Linked DNA regions of Homo sapiens. The protein of the gene in region 2 binds, or shares a complex with, the protein of the main gene of each other region. Each region holds a gene or a part of one and is shown on either strand. Other genes may lie near its edges.

Region 1 (8,549 bases), on a different chromosome or scaffold from region 2:
AGCATCTTTTCTGTACCTTGACAGATTGTCATGTTTCTAAATTTGGATCCGCTTTACATTTGTATATTCATTACATTCTTATTGAGCATCCACCATAGCTGTTCCAGTACTGTGCTAAGAAAAGATCATTTCAATGGATTTGCAGCTAACTTTATGGCTTCAACTCGAGTCTTGCCTTGAAATGTCACCTTTAAACATGCCTAGTCAGATTCAAGGGCTTGCGTGGATTTCTTAGATATAAGGCATTCACATGGACTCTTGTAAAAGAGTAATGGAAACAACTATAGAAATTTGCACTTGTTTACTGAAGACAGGAGAAGTAAAAGCTGCTTTCATAAGCCCAAGAATTACGGAGATTTTTATTAAACTATAACTATTTTCCCAATCACCTCACTAATACAGAGAGCTTCTAAATCATTGCCAGGGGTCATTTTCATACCTTTTGAACATGTTTTGAAAATAGATTACAGGGCCAGGCGCAGTGGCTCACGCCTGTAATCCCAGCACTTTGGGAGGCCGAGGCGGGCAGATCACGAGGTCAGGAGATCGAGACCATCCTGGCTAACACGGTGAAACCCCATCTCTACTAAAAATACAAAAAATTAGCCGGGCATGGTGGCGGTTGCCTGTAGTTCCAGCTACTCAGGAGGCTGAGGCAGGAGAATGGCGTGAACCTGGGAGGCGGAGCTTGCAGTGAGCTGAGATCATACCACTGCACTCCAGCCTGGGCAACAGAGCGAGACTCCATCTCAAAAAAAAAAAAAAAAAGAAAAGAAAATAGATTACATGACTATCTAATTATCTAGTGAATGTAAAAATAAATAATGAAGGCCGGGCACGGTGGCTGAAGCTTGTAATCCCAAATGAGGCAGGTGGATCACCTGAGGTCAGGAGTTCAAGACCAGCCTGGCCAACATGGCAAAACCCTGTCTCTACTAAAAATAGAAAAATTAGCCAGGCATGGTGGCACATGCCTGTAGTCCCAGCTACTTGGGAGGCTGAGGCAGGAGAATCGCTTGAACCCAAGAGGCAGAGGTCACAGTAGGCCAAAATCGTGCCACTGCACTCCAGCCTGGGTGACAGAGCAAGACTCCATCTCATAAATAAATAAATACTTTTGTTTTAAAAGCATATTATTGACCTACCTGTAAGGAATAATTGGTTGAGGGAAGAATTGTGAAAAAAGATGTAGAAAAGATGTAGGGTTGTAAGGGGCTAGAAAAACCCGTGCAGCTGGTAGAGAGGGAATGGAAAGCAGATCCTGTGAAAGGATAGCACAGGAAGAGAGGCAAAATCCATAATCCTTACTTTATTTTTGATCAACACAGTACTGCCAACCCTCAGATTAAGGCAAGGTAAGCAGATTTATATCATCTTTACTCATATCTTCTGATAGATTTACTAAAGATGATTCCATATCTACTAAATTAGAAAGCCAGAGCTACCGCCTTAAACTGCTTGGAGTGCAAATATTCACAAAGAGGCAAAACTGTGACCCAAATTCCTGATTTTTGCTTTTGCTTCCCTTCTTCTCAGGTGCTCTCTACTAGGTAAGATTGGGAGATATTGGACTACTACTAAAATTTAGTGCTCACTTCATTCTACCTCTCAACCTCTACTTTGTCCTTAATGTTTTGCTCCTTTAATGTAGGCAGAGGTTCAAGAAACCAGGAAGATGAGTGATCATAATTTTCACGTTTTATCGTAGTGACTTATTTCATGCCTCTTTCTCCCAGTAGACTACATATTCCATGAGGGCAAAGGCCATGTTATTCATATCTAGCTAGTGCCCAGCATAAGTAACTCACTATCTGTTGAGTGAATGAGTAAACCTAATTTATTATTTTGGAATACATTTCTGTTTTAAATTTATTATTTTTTTTTAGATATGCAACCATTGTCTCCAATTTCTGTCCATGAACGCTACAGTTCTCCTACCGCAGGGAGTGCTAAGAGAAGACTCTTTGGAGAGGACCCCCCAAAGGAAATGCTTATGGACAAGATCATAACAGAAGGAACAAAATTGAAAATCGCTCCTTCTTCAAGCATTACTGCTGAAAATGTATCAATTTTACCTGGTCAAACTCTTCTAACAATGGCCACAGCCCCAGTAACAGGAACAACAGGACATAAAGTTACAATTCCATTACATGGTAACGTTATAGTGCATTTGTTTTGTACTTTTTCTGAGATAAAAATTTAAGAAATGTCTTAGTGGATTAGATCACATGGTTTTTCTAACTCATTATTTTTTCTTGAACCTATACTTTTTTTTTTTAAATAGATTTGAATTTTTTAGAGCAGTTGTAGATTCACAGCAAAATTCAGAGGAAGGTACAGACATTTCTCATAGTCCCCCTTCCCCAACCAGAGGCATATAAAGCCTCCCTCATTATCAGTATTCCACACCAGAATGCTACATTTGTTACAGTTGATGAACCTACATTACTGACACATTACCCAATGCCCATAGTTTACATTAGGGTTCACTCTTGGTGAATAGTTTATTGATTTTGAGAACGTATAATGACATGTATCTGTCACTATAGCTCCATACAGAGTAGTTTCACTGCCCTATAAATCCTCTGTGCCCCACCTTTTTGTTTTGAACCTATAGTGGTTTTTTTTTTATTTTTAAATTTTATAAATTTACTACCCTCTCTGTTTGTTTAGACTTATTTTACTTTTTCTTTTCTTCTTTTTTTATTTTTTGAGACAGGATCTCACTCTGTCACCCACATTGGAGTACAGCAGCATGATCTCATCTCACTGCAACCTCTGCTCCCAGGCTCAAGTGATCGTCCCACCTCAGCCTCCTGAGTAGCTGGGACCACAGGCAAGTGCCACCACTCCCAGCTAATTTTTTCTATTTGTGGTACAGATGAGGTTTTACCATGTTGCCCAGGTCTCAAACTACTTTTAAAATGTTCTTATCTGAGCTTTCCAATATGTATGTATTGAGCAAAAATTCTGTTTTTTGACTAACAGCTCAAGTGCTCAAAATGTTAAAAAAAAAAATGCTTTTTTTTCCAATAAATTTAAACTATAAATGTATCCCAGGCAAATACAAAATAGAGAACAAAATTTGCTTTTTTTTCCATAAATTTAAAGTATAAAAACAAAACCGAATATTCTTGTTTCTAGAAAATAAGGATTTATGCGGGGCATGGTAGCTTTCACCTGTAATCCCAGCACTTTGGGAGACCAAGGCAAGAGGATCACTTTAGCCCAGGAGTTTGAGACCCAGACTGGGCAACATAGCAATATCCTATCTCTACAAAAAATTAAATTAGCTGGGCATGGTGATGTATGCCTATGGTCCCAGCTACTTAGGAGGCTGAGGCAGGAGAATCACTTGAGCCCAGGAATTTGAGGCTACAGTGAGCCATGATCACGCTACTGTACTCCAGCCAGGACAACAGAGCAAGACATTGTCAAAAAAAAAAAGAAAAAGAAAAAAAAAAGGGGGCCCGGGGGGCGCCAGGCACAGTGGCTCACACCTATAATCCCAGCACTTTGGGAGGCTGAGGCAGGTGGATCACTTGAGGTCAGGAGTTTGAGACCAGCCTGGCCAACGTGGTGAAACCCCGTCTCTACTAAAAATAGAGAAAAAACATTAGCCGGGTGTGGTGGCGCATGCCTGTAGTCCCAACTATTCAGGAGGCTGAGGCAGGAGAATTGCTTGAACCTGGGAGGCAGAGGTCTCAGTGAGCCAAGATGAGGCCACTGCACTCCCACCTGGGTGACAGAGTGAGACTGTCTCAAAAAAAAAAAAAAAAAGTCCAGCTGCAGTGGCTCATGCCTGTAATCCTAGCATTTTGGGAGGCCAAGGCAGGCAGATGGCTTGAGCTGACGAGTTCGAGACTAACCTGGGCAACATGGCAAAACTCCCATCTCTAAAAAAAAAATACAAGCCGGGCACAGTAGCTCACTCCTGTAATCCCAGCACTTTGGGAGGCCGAGGAGGGCAGATCATGAGGTCAGGAGATCGAGACCATCCTGGCTAACATGGTGAAACCCTGTGTCTACTAAAAATATTTTAAAAATTAGCCGGGTGTGGTAGCATGTGCCTGTAGTTCCAGCTACTCAGGAGGCTAAGGCAGGAGAATTGAACCCGGGAGGCAGAGGTTGCAGTGAGCCGAGATCACGCCACTGCACTCCAGCCTGGGCGACAGAGCAAGACTCCATCTCAAAAAAAAAAAAAAAAAATTTACCAGGCATAGTGGCTTGCACCTGTAGTCTCAGCTATTTGCGGGGGTTGAAATGGGAGGATCACTTGAGCCCAGGAGGTCGAGGCCACAGTGAGCTGAGATGGCGCCACTGCACTCCAGCCTGAGTGACCAAGTGAGACCCTGTCTCAAAAAAAAAAAAAAAAAGAATTCAGTCATAACCTAGAATTACTATTTTGTAGCCTTCTTATACACACAGATATATGTATATATAATTGTCAAAATATATATAGTTGACAACTTTCCTAGAACATATGCAGATTATTTCTAATAATGCTTATACATTCAGGTGTCGCAAATGATGCTGGAGAGATCACACTGATACCTCTTTCCATGAATACAAATCAGGAGTCCAAAGTCAAGAGTCCTGTATCACTTACTGCTCATTCATTAATTGGTGCTTCTCCAAAACAGACCAATCTGACTAAAGCACAAGAGGTACATTCAACTGGAATAAACAGGCCAAAGAGAACTGGGTCCTTAGCACTATTTTACAGAAAGGTATGTGTTTTTATAGCACTTTAGAAGAATTTGTTTAATCAATGGAAGAAAGATTGAGTAACAGAGACAGACTTTGGTCTTTTTTTTTTCTAATATACATAACACAAAATTTACCATTTTAACCATTTTTAAGTGTACAGTTCAATGGTATTAAATACATTCACATTGTTGTGCAGCTTTATTACTACCGTCTATCTCCAGAACTTTTTCGTCTTCCCATTCTGAAATTCTGTATCCATTTCTCCCTTTCCCCAGCTTCTGGCAACTACTATTCTACTTTCTGTTTCTGTGAATTTGACTACTCTAGGTTCTTCCTATGAGTGAAGTCATACGATATTTGTTTGTTTTTGTGACTGGCTTAGCGTAATGTCTTCTAGGTTCATTCATATTATAGCTTGTGCCAGAATTTCCTTCCTTTTCAAGGCTGAATAATATTCCATTGTATGAAGAAGAGAAAAAAAGAACAAAAGAAAAAATATTCCATCATATGAATATACTTTTTTTTAATACCACATTTTGTTTATTCATTCATCTGCTGATGGGCATTTGGGTTGCTTCTACCTTTTGGCTATTGTGAGTTATGCTGCTATGAACATTTGTGTACAGGTGTCTGTTCAAACCAGGCGTGGTTGCTCATGCCTGTAAACCCAGCACTTTATGAGGCCGAGGCAGGAGGATCACTTGAACCCAGGGGTTTGAGACCACCCTGGGCGACACAGTGAGACCCTATCTCTATTTTAAAAAAAAAAAAAAAAAAAAGCAGCCAGGTATGGTGGCAGATGCCTATAGTCTTGGCTATTTTGGAGGCTGAGGTGGGAGGATCACATGAGCCCAGGAGGTTGAGGCTACAGTGAGTCGAGATCACACCACTGCGCTCCAGCCTGGGCAACAGAACGAGGCCCTGTCTTAAGAAGAAAAAAAAATAGCAACAAATATCTATTCAAGTCTCTGCTTTCAATTCCTTTGGGTATATTCCCAGAAATGGGAGAGTAATTTAGTATTTCATTTTCTGAGGAACCACCGTACCATTTTCCACAGTGGGTGGACCATTTTACATTACCACTAGCAAGGCACAAGTGTTCCAAGTTCTTCTCATCGTTGCCAACGTTTCGTGTTTTCTGGTTTGTTTGTTTTTTTGATAATGGCCATCCAATGGGTATAAAGAGACATCTTACTATAGTTTCAATTTTCATTTCCCTAATGATTAGTAATATTGAGTATCTTTTCATGTGCTTTTGCCCATCTATATATCTTCATTATAGAAATGTCTATTCGAGTCTTTTGCCCATTTTTTTAATTATGAGTTTTGGGTTTTGTTTTTGTTAAATTGTAGGAGTTCTTTATGTATTCTAGATATTAATCTCCTATAAAATATACTATTTACAAGTATTTTCTCCCATTCTGTGGGTTGCCTTTTCATTCCGTTGATAGTGTTCTTGACACATGAAAGTTTTTAATCTTAATAAAGTCAATTTATTCTTTTCATTTTTTGTCTGTGCTTTTGGTGTCATACACAAGAAATCATTGCCAAATCCAGTATTATAAAACTTTTCCCCTATGTTTTCGTCTAAGAGTTTTATAGTTTTTAGCTCTTATATTTATTATGTCTATTTTTTTTTGAGACAGAGTCTCACTTTATCACCCAGGCTGGAGTGCAGTCACGCAGTCACAGCTCACTGCAGCCTCCGCCTCCCAGGTTCAGATGATCCTCCCACCTCGACCCTCTGAGCAGCTAGGACTACAGGCATGTGCCACCATGCCCAGCTAATTTTCGTTTTTTGGGTTTTTTGTTTTTGTTTTTTTTTTTTTTGAGACAGAGTCTCACTCTGTTGCCCAGGCTGGAGTGCAGTAGCGCAATCTCGGCTCACTGCAACCCCTGCCTCCCGGGTTCAAGCAATTCTCCTTTCTCAGCCTCCTGAGTAGCTGGGACTACAGGAATATGCCACCACGCCTGGCTAATTTTTGTATTTTTAGTAGAGACGAGGTTTCACCGTGCTGGTTTGGCTGGTTTCAAACTACTGACCTCAGGTGATCCACCCACCTTGGCCTCCCAAAGTGCTGGGATTACAGGTGTGAGCCACCACGCCGGGCCTGTTTTTGAACTTTTTTGTAGAGACGGGGTTTCACCATGTTGCCCAGGCTGGTCTCAACTCGTGAGCTTAAGTGATCTGCCCACCTCAGCCTCCCAAAGTGCTGGGATTACAGCCGTGAGCCACCACGCCCAGCCCATTTTAATTTTTGTATATGGTGTTAGATAAGGGTCTAAAGTCATTCTTTTGCACATGGATATCCATTTTTCCCAGCACGATTTGTTGAAAGACTGCCCTTTCCCATTGAATGAGCTTAGAATCCTTGTTGAAAAGTCACTTGAGCATAGATATGGGGGTTTAATTCTGGGCTCTCTATTCTATTCATTGGACTATATGTCTATCTGTATTCAGTACCACACTGTTTTGATAACCATAGCTTTGTGTCATAAGTTTTAAAATCAGGAGGTGTGAGACCTCCAACTTTGTTTTTCTTTCTTAAGATTGTTTTAGCTATTTAAGATTTCTTGAGAGTCTGTATGAGTTTTAGGATGGATTTTTCTCTTTCTGCAAAAACATTGTGGAATTTTGACAGAGATTGCATTGAATATGGAGATCGCATTGGCTAGTGTTGACATCTTAAGAATGTCAAGTCTTCCAGTCCATGATCATAGGATGTCTTTTCATTTGCGTCTTCTTTAATTTCTTTCAGCAACATTTTGTAGTTTTCTGTATATGTCTTTTGCAAGACAAGTCCTTGCTTAAGATTATTCCTAAGTATTCTTTTTGATGCTATTGTAAGTAATAAGTAAGTAGAATTGTCTTAATTTCATTTTTTAGATTGTTCATTAATGTAAAGGAACACAAGAGATGTTGTTGTATTGATTTTCTTGCAGCTTTGCTGATTTGTTTATTAATTCTATCAGTTTTTATGGATTCTTTAGGTTTTTTGAGTTTTCCATACACAAGATTATGTCATCTGTGAACAAAGATAATTTTACTTCTTTCTTTGCAATTTGGATTTCTTTTTCCTGCCTTATTGCTCTAGCTAGGAATTCCCGTTCTATGTTGAATAAAAGTGGTGAAAGCAAACATCCTTGTCTTACTCCTGATCTTAGAGGAACACCTTTCAGGTTTTCAATTTGAGTATGATGTTAACTGTGGGTTTTTTATATACAGTTGACCCTTGAACAACATGTTTTTGCACTGTACAAGTCCACTTATATACAGATTTTTTTCAGCCAACACAGAATGAAAATACAGTATTTGAGGGATGTGAAACCTGTGTATATAGAGGGCCATCTTTTTGTACATGGGGATTCTACAGGGCCAAATGCAGGACTTGAGTATGCATACATTCAGGTATATGCAGGGGCTCCTGGAAGAAATCTCCTGTGTATACCAAGGGATTACTGTATATCCTTTATTATGTTTAGGTAGTTTCCTTCTCTTCCTAGCTTTTTGAGTATTTTTATCATGAAAGGGTGTTAAATTTTGTCAAATGCTTTCCTGTATCACTTGAAATGATTATGTGGCCATTTTCCCTTTGTCCTTTTAATATGGTGTGTTATACTGAATGATTTCCTTGTTTTAAATTATCCTTACCTTCTAAAAATAAGTTCTACTTGGTCATGGTGTATAACCCTCTTCATATGCTGTTGAATTTGTTTTACTAGTATTTAGTTGAGGATTTTTGCGCCAATATTCGTAAGAGATAGTGGTCTGTATTTTTTCTTATGCTTTCTTTGTCTGGCTTTGCTATCAAGTAATGTACCTTTAGCCACTTAAAAAA
Region 2 (8,549 bases):
CTCCACCTCCCAGGTTCAAGCGATTCTCCTGTCTCAGCCTCCTGAGTAGTTGGGATTACAGGTGCATGCCACCACGTCCAGCTAATTTTTGTATTTTTAGTAGAGACCAGATTTCATCATATTGGTCAGGATGGTCTCGAACTTCTAACCTCAGGTGATCCACCCGCCTCAGCCTCCCAAAGTGCTGGGATTACAGGCGTGAGCCACTGCACTCGGCCAGTTTTATATAATAATAAGTAATAATTTTGTAGGCCGGGCGCAGTGGCTCATGCCTGTAATCCAGCACTTTGGGAGGCCGAGGAGGGCGGATCACCTGAGGTCAGGAGTTCGAGACCATCCTGACCAACATGGTAAAACCCCATCTCTACTAAAAATACAAAAATTAGCCAGCGTCGTGGTGGGCGCCTGTAATCCCAACTACTCGGGAGGCTGAGGCAGGAGAATCGCTTGAACCCAGGAGGCGAAGGTTGCAGTGAGTCGAGATCATGCCATTGCACTCCAGCCTGGGTGACAGAGTGAGACTCCGCCTCAAAACAAACAAACAAACAAAAAAAAACGAAAAAAAAGGTCGGGCTTGGTGGCTCATGCCTGTAATCTCAGCACTTTGGAAGGCCGAGGCGGGCGGATCACGAGGTCAGGAGATCAAGACCATCCTAGCTAACACGGTGAAACCCTGTCTCTACTAAAAATACAAAAAAAATTAGCCGGGCGTGGTGGTGGGCGTCTGTAGTCCCAGCTACTTGGAAGGCTGAGGCAGGAGAATGGCGTGAAGCCGGGAGGCGGAGCTTGCAGTGAGCCGAGATTGCGCCACTGCACTCTAGCCTGGGAGACAGAGCGAGACTCCGTCTCAAAAAAAAAAAGTAATAATTTTGTAAAGCACCTTACAGTTTACAAAGAGATTTAACAACCTCTTCCAATTCTCTCAACTTCCCTGTGTGGTCTATGTTGTCCCTGTTTAGTAAATGAGGAAATGGAGGTTCAAGAGACAGTAACTTGCCTAAGCAACAGAGCTTGAGCTGCTGTAGGTCTTCTGATACTCTGTCTCCTTTGATAATCTTGTTTGCCTAGTTAGATTGTAAATTTCTTGAAGCCTGAATCTAACCAGTTATTTCTTTTTATTCTTTATAGCACCTAGCTCCATGCTGCGCAGGAAATATAAATATTCAAACTAGATTGACTGGACTGGCCGTGGTCAAAAATAACTTGCCCTTTCTCCCTTCTGCCCTCTAGCGCCCTCACAAAGCCAATGCTGAGGAGATGACCAAGTACCACAGCGATGACTACATTAAATTCTTGCGCTCCATCCGTCCAGATAACATGTCGGAGTACAGCAAGCAGATGCAGAGATGTAAGTCCATTCTGTTCCCTCACACTCTGAAGCCGCCAGTTGCATCTCCCTTTCCACTGTAGAGGCCCATTCTGCCGTCCTCGCACCTCCCATTCAGTGGACACCTGATTTCCCCTACCTCCTAAAGGTGCCAGAGTGCTTTTTCCCCTCAAGTCGGATTTTTCATGTTTCCTGATTTGTAAACGATAGAGGTAGTACTTTTTCTGGTTATGTTCACAACACTGTCCCAAGAGTACTGTAATTATTGTAGTGGAAAAAGCACTGACCTGGGACGGGGAGACAATAGATACAGTAAAATTTAACTCTAACTCTCAGCTGAGTGGGCAAGTCACTTCCCCTCAGATTCTTCTTTTGTAAAGTGGGCTGGGCCACATGATCTCTGATTTCTGTCCAACTGTAACTGTTTTGACTTAGTGGGTATTAATTGAGAATTTAGAGGCCACTCAGGACAGATTCTAGATGGTGTAATCTTTGAGATGAGGTGATGCTGCCCCTGATCCCTTGGACTTGAACTTCAGAGCAGGTCCCATCTTGGAAGCCACGCTTAGTTTGTAGGAATCGTGGGAATTATTTTAGCTGTGAGGGGGAAAAAAAAAGTATTCAAATTTGGGACAAAACTATCATACCTGACTTCCCCCTTGTGTTATTTTAGAAATTATCTCTTAGCACCTAAGACTTCATATAGTATAACAGCACTGTCCAGAAGAAGTTTTGATTAACTTATGACAGCTTATATGGAAGTGTCAGAAAATATGCGGCACTTGTTTGTTGCTGCTGACCACAAGGTAGTCTTACTCCCAAGGAAGAAAGTTATTTATAACTATTATTACAACTAATAATAACTGTACAGTGGTATTGATGGCAGAACCACAGAGACCTTCCTTGAAGCATTAAGCTTCTTTGCTACCGACAACTCCAGGAGCTGCCAGCTGCTGTGAGTGAGGTGTTTGCTCTCTGAATTGCAGGGTCTTATTTCCCTCCAAGATGAGGCAAATTCATGCCTTTCCTGTAGATGGCTTTAGAGGTTTCCATAACCCATTTAGGCCAAGGATCAGGCTCTACTCTCAGCACAGTGGGCTCTCACTAGAGGAGCAACTTGCTATTAAAGTAAGAAAATAAGCTTTCATGTCTTAGTTTGAATCCTTGGTTTCCTAGCCCCTCTGGTGTTATTTCCCGCCCCTGCCACTTTTTTTTGAGACAGAGTTTCGCTCTTGTTGCCCAGGCTGGAGTGCAATGGGGCGATCTCTACTCACCACAACCTCCGTCTCCCGGCTTCAAGCGATTATCCTGCCTCAGCCTCCTGAGTAGCTGGGATTACAGGGATGTGCCACCACGCCCGGCTAATTTTGTATTTTTAGGTTTCTCCATGTTAGTCAGGCTGGTCTCAAACTCCCGACCTCAGGTGATATGCCAGCCTCGGCTTCCCCAAGTGCTGGGATTATAGGCCTGAGCCACTGTGCCCGACCTGTTTTCCCTCTTTAAGAGGAAGACAGGACAGGCACAGCGGTTCATGCCTGTAATCCTAGCACTTTGGGAGCCCAAGGTGGGAGGATTGCTTGAGCCCAGCCAGGAGTTTGAGACCAGCCTGGGCAACATAGTGAGACCCTCATCTCTACAAAAAAATAAAAAAATTAGCTGGGCATGGCGGTGCACACCTGTGGTCCCAGCTACTCAGGAGGTTGAGGAGGGAGGATCTTTTGAGCCTGGAAGGTCGAGGCTGCAGTGAGCCATGATTGTACTACTGCACTCCAGCCTGGGCAACAGAGCGAGACCAAAAAAAAAAAGACATTAGTGCCTATTTCATAGTCAAGGATGGGGGAATAAGTGAAGATAATATATTTAAATATATATAATATGTCTACCCTCAATGAATTGCTTTTGCTATTTTTGCTATTGCATAATCACTTTTGCTATTATGACTTACTATTTTTATTATTTACAAACTTATCAAGGCAGACAAAATGCTATGCCCTGAGGAGTGTGCAGGTTCTGCTCTGGTGCGCCAATTTTTCCGAATCCAGCATTCTAAAGTTGTACATTAAAAAATTCAGTCTGGCTGGGTGTGGTGGCTTACGCCTGTAATCCCAGCAGTTTGGGAGGCTGAGGCAAGCAGATCACCTGGGGTCGGGAGTTTGAGACCAGCCTGGCCAACATAGTGAAACCCCATCTCTACTAAAAATACAAAAATTAGCTTGGTTTGGTGGTACATGCCTGTAATTCCAGCTACTCAGGAGGCTGAGGCAGGAGAATTGCTTGAACCCAGGAGGCAGAGGTTGCAGTGAGCCAAGATCGCGCCACTGCACTCCAGCCTGGGCGACAGAGCGAGACTCCGTCTCAAAAAAAAAAAATTCAGTCTGGGTGCCTATAGTCTCAGCTACTTAGGAGGCTGAAGCAGGAAGATTTCTTGAGCCCAGGAGTTCAAGGCCAGTCTGGGTAATATAGTGAGACCTGGTCTCTAAAAAAAATTTTTCTAATTAAAATAATTAGGTCTTGGATTTTTCTGTCATCAGAAATGGGGGCAGGAAGAATAAGCCTCTCTAAGAACTTCAGAGTACCTCACTGAGTTGATTTGTAGGGTTATGGAGGGTCAGAGTAGACAGAGACTTTAGATGTCACTTAACACAGTGCTTTATAACCTGGGGTATCTACCAAGACAGTAATGAGCCCTTTTTAAAAAAAGAATTATTTTTATTTTTATTCTTGTTTTTAGAGATGGGGTCTTGCTTTGTCATCCAGGGTACAGTACAGTGGCAAGATCATAGCTCACTGCAGCCTCAAATTCCTTAATCCTTAACTTGCCCTTTTAGAATATGTACCAATATCTAACCTAGGCGCTGGACATGGTAGCATGCACCTGTAATGCCAGTGCTTTGAAGGGCAAGGCAGGAGGGATAGCTTGAGGCCAGGAGTTCAAGACCAGCCTGGGCAGCATAGTGAGACCCCCATCTCTTATTTTATCTTAAAAAAATAAAAATAAAAAATTAGTTGTGTATGGTGGCACATGCCTGTGATTCTGGCTACTCAGGAGCCTGAGGCAGGAGGATCCCTTGAGCCCAGTTCAGGGCTGCATTGAGGTATGGTCTCATTTCGCCACCACACTCCAGCCTGGGCAACATAGCAAGAACTCGTCTCAATAAAAAAAAAACACACATGGCCAGGCGTGGTGGCTCATGCCTGTAATCCCAGCACTTTGGGAGGCCGAGGTGGGCGGATCACGAGGTCAGTACATCGAGACACCATCCTGGCTAACACGGTGAAACCCCGTCTCCACTAAAAATTTACAAAAAATTAGCCGGACGTGGTGGCAGGCGCTTGTGGTCCCAGCTACTCGGGAGGCTGAGGCACCAGAATGGTGTGAACCCGACAGGCGGAGCTTGCAGTGAGCCGAGATCACGCCACTGTACTCCAGCTTGGGCGACAGAGCGAGACTCCTTCTCAAAAAGAAAAAAAAAAAAACCCACACACACACAAAAACATCCCACACACCTAATCTAGGAAGTTATGCTTATGATAAGATCGAGTAAATCAGGTTTCCTTGCTTGTGGCTGAAATGTAATAAACCCTTTCTGGTCACTTTGAGAGCCTTGACCAGAAGTTCTGACCTAATATTTAGCAAGTGAAAATGGGAACACAAATAAATGCATTTAGGGGGCTTTTGGTGAAAACATGATAAAAGGGATTGGTAAAAAATTGGGAGACATTCTCATCCATTTTACAGACATGTAAACTTTCCCAGTCACACAGCAAGGTGATGGTAGAATGCAGAATGGAACTCTAGTCCCCCAATTCTGTAGTTTTAAAAAATATAGTGTATATAAAATATTTTAGATACACAGGCCAGGCAGGGTAGCTCATGCCTGTAATCCCAGCACTTTGGGAGGCTGAGGCAGGTGGATCACTTGAGGCCAGGAGTTTGAGACCAGCCTGGCCAGCGTGGTGAAACCCTGTCTCCACCAAAAGTACAAAAATTAGCCATGTGTGGTGGTATATGCCTGTAATCCCAGCTACTCGGGAGGCTGAGGCATGAGAATTGTTTGAACCTGGAGGGCAGAGGTTGCAGTGAGCCAAGATCGCGCCACTGCACTCCAGCCTGGGCGACAGAGCAAGACTCCATCTCAAAAAAAAAAAAAAAAAAAAAAAACAGAAAAAGAAAAAAACATATTTTAGACACACACAAAAAGCATCAAAAAATAATATAATGCACTTTGGGAGGCCGAGGCGGGCAGATCACGAGGTCAGGAGATCAAGACCATCCTGGCTAACACAGTGAAACCCCATCTCTACTAAAAATACAAAAAATTAGCCGGGTGTGGTGGTGGGTGCCTGTAGTCCCAGCTACTTGGGAGGCTGAGGCAGGAGAATGGTGTGAACCCAGGAGGCGGAGCTTGCAGTGAGCTGACATTGCGCCACTGCACTCCAGGCTGGGCAACAGAGCAAGACTCTGTCTCAAAAAAAAAAAAATAATAATAATAATATAATGAACATCCATGTGTGCCCAATACCCAGCCTGAGAAAGAAAACATTATCAATACAGTTGATGCCCCCTTGGGCATCTTTCCTTGATCACATACCCTTTCTCTCCCACTCCCCCAGCCCCCCACCCCATTACCAGCACTGCCAAGGTATAAGCACTATCCTGAGGTTAGTGTTTAATCTTCCCATCTCTTTGCAATGAGCATTTGACTGCCTTCTCTGCCTACGTCTGCTTCCACCTCTCACCCAGTATTGCTTCCCTTTAGTCTAAAGCTAGTGTGAGAATGAGAAAAGCGTTTATAGCAGAAAGAGAGAAAACCCATGGAAAAGTCTTCCCTACCCTCACAGATTAGCTCACATGAGTATCTGCTCTTCCATTTGCCCCCTTTCCATCTCTAATCACATAGCTTATTGACTAGGAATAAAAGGGCTGGTCATTTGAGCTACATGTTGGTTTGGTGCCTGAAGAAAAATATTTTTTTTTTTCTCACGTCCAAAACACCCATTCCTTCCCATGGAGGCTCCATATCCCAAATAAGAGTATAAACAAAGCTTTGGAAACGCAGGCAGGCCAAACTCTGTGCAGGAGGAAGTGGCCAGAGAGGGAAATCAGTTGCCAATGGATAAACAGCCGGGGCCCAGGGACCAAAGTTCTTATTTACACAGCCTCCCAGTGTTTACCCAGGAAGTGAGGAAGAGACCCACCCGCTGCACACTCCCTCATGCAGCCATGCTTCTTCCTCAGAGCACCGGATCTTGGCACCCTCCAAGTTTAGTGCAGAACCAGAGCTGGTAACTCTTGTGGTTATTGTAGATCTTGAGCTTCAACTGTGTCTTGAGATTTTACCAGCACAATCCAAACTGAGCTCTTCTGCTCTCACCCCAGGGCTGCTCCTTCCTCTACTTTTGGAAATCTTGATAACAGTGGGTACAGTAGAAGGCTGGGCAAGAGAATAAGTATGCAGCCCCACACCTCCTGCCTCTGACTTCCTGTAGCTCATTGATGTCTCAGCAGTTACTTTTTTTTTTTTTTTCTCCTGAGATGGAGTCTCGCCCTGTCACCCAGGCTGGAATGCAGGGGTGCAATCTTGGCTCACTGCAACCTCCACGTTTTGGGTTCAAGTGATTCTCCTGCCTCAGCCTCCTGAGTAGCTGGGATTACAGGCACATGCCTGGCTAATTTTTGTATTTTTAGTAGAGACGGGGTTTCTCCATGTTGGCCAGGCTAGTCTTGAACTCGTGACCTCAAGTGATCCACCTGCCTTGGCCTCCCAAAGTGCTGGGATTACAGGTGTGAGCCACCGCGCCCGGCCAGTAGTTACCTTTTCTGTAAGAGGAGATTTGGAGCTATAAAGTTCCTCTAGGTCTGTGAGTCTACAGCCTCCAGGTGTGCTTTCCTTCCTGTTTTCATTTCATTTGCCTTATTGTTTGCATATGTTTCCACATTATGTACTACTTGGTACTTTTACCCCATTAGGCCCGAAATAACTTTACTCCACTTGTCACTGTGAATGTAGCAGTAAGACACTGGGCTACGGGAGTCAAGACACCGGGACCCTGATTCTGGTTCTGCTACTGCCTGGTTTTATAACCTTGGGCAAATCACTTAACTTCTCGGTATCTGTTTGTTCCTCCGCACAGTGGGGTTGATATCTGGCTTGTCCAGCTCATAGAGTTGTTGTGAGGATCAAATGAGGTTGTATATGTGAAAGGACTTGGAAAAGGGCCGGGATATATTTTCACAGGCTTTTAAGACAGACAGGCTGGCTGGGCACGGTGGCTTATGCCTGTAATCCCAGCACTTTGGGAGGCCGAGGCGGGCGGATCACAGGGTCAGGAGTTTGAGACCAGCCTGGCCAACATGGTGAAACCCCGTCTCTACTAAGAATGCGGAAATCAGCCAGGTGTGGTGGCAGGTACCTGTAATCCCAGCTACTCGGGAGGCTGAGGCAGGAGAATGGCTTGAAACTGGAGGGCAGAGATTACAGTGAGCCAAGATCACTTCACTATACTCCAGCCTGGGCAACAAGAGCAAAACTCCGTCTCAAAAAAAAAACAGACAAACCAAAGCTTGAGGCTTGCATACTGCTTCTGCCATTTACTAACAGCTCACCTCTCTGAACCTGTTTCCCTACTTATTTATTTATTTATTTTTTTGAGACAGGGTCTCACTCTTGTCTCGCCCAGGCTGGAGTGCAGTTGCGCGATCTCAGCTCACTGCAACCTCTGCCTCCCGGGTTCAAGTGGTTCTTGTGCCTCAGCCTCCCAAGTAGCCGGGATTACAGGCAGCTGCCACCACACCTGGCTAATTTTTATGTTTTTGGTAGAGATGGGGTTTCTCCATGTTGCCCAGGCTGGTCTTGAACTCCTGGCCTCAAGTGGTCCTCCTGCCTTAGCCTCCCGAAGTGCTGGGATTACAGGTGTGAGCCACTGTGCCAGGCCTTGTTTCCCTACTTATAAGATGGGACCAAATCTTACCTCAGAAGCTTGTGTGAAGATGAATGATCTCGGGTATTTAACGCATGTAGCGCAGTGTCTGGCGTGTTGTACGTGCGCAGTGAACGATAGTTCTCTGGGTCTCTGTTCTTGCCCCTTGTTTGTCAGCTGGCGTGAGGGCCAGAGGATAAGTTTTTCTCCCTCAAGAAACGAACCAACATTTTCCAAGTTGCTAACTGCTTCTCCATATTAGATTTTTGTTAATTTTCTGACCAGTGGGTGAGGTGGGATA

What was found.
Region 1: the proteins of HDAC1 (region 2) and RBL1 are in contact, whole or in part, in a crystal structure (PDB 7SME), measured with the Homo sapiens proteins. Residues at the interface, in NP_004955.2 of Homo sapiens: Ile414, Ala415, Cys416, Glu418, Glu419, Phe420, Ser421, Asp422; in NP_002886.2 of Homo sapiens: Tyr849, Ile850, Lys853, Val854, Thr860, Phe861, Gln862, Met865, Lys866, Tyr879, Arg880, Asp929, Leu930, Ile931, Tyr934, Asn935, Val939, Lys943, Leu947.

Annotation. Positions count from the first base shown.
Region 1 is NC_000020.11:37,028,846-37,037,394, reverse strand, and holds part of RBL1 (retinoblastoma-like protein 1), read left to right. Parts: intron 1-1,886; coding exon 1,887-2,153; intron 2,154-4,518; coding exon 4,519-4,730; intron 4,731-8,549. UniProt on the Homo sapiens protein: Key regulator of entry into cell division. Directly involved in heterochromatin formation by maintaining overall chromatin structure and, in particular, that of constitutive heterochromatin by stabilizing histone methylation.
Region 2 is NC_000001.11:32,315,435-32,323,983, forward strand, and holds part of HDAC1 (histone deacetylase 1), read left to right. Parts: intron 1-1,230; coding exon 1,231-1,348; intron 1,349-8,549. UniProt on the Homo sapiens protein: Histone deacetylase that catalyzes the deacetylation of lysine residues on the N-terminal part of the core histones (H2A, H2B, H3 and H4).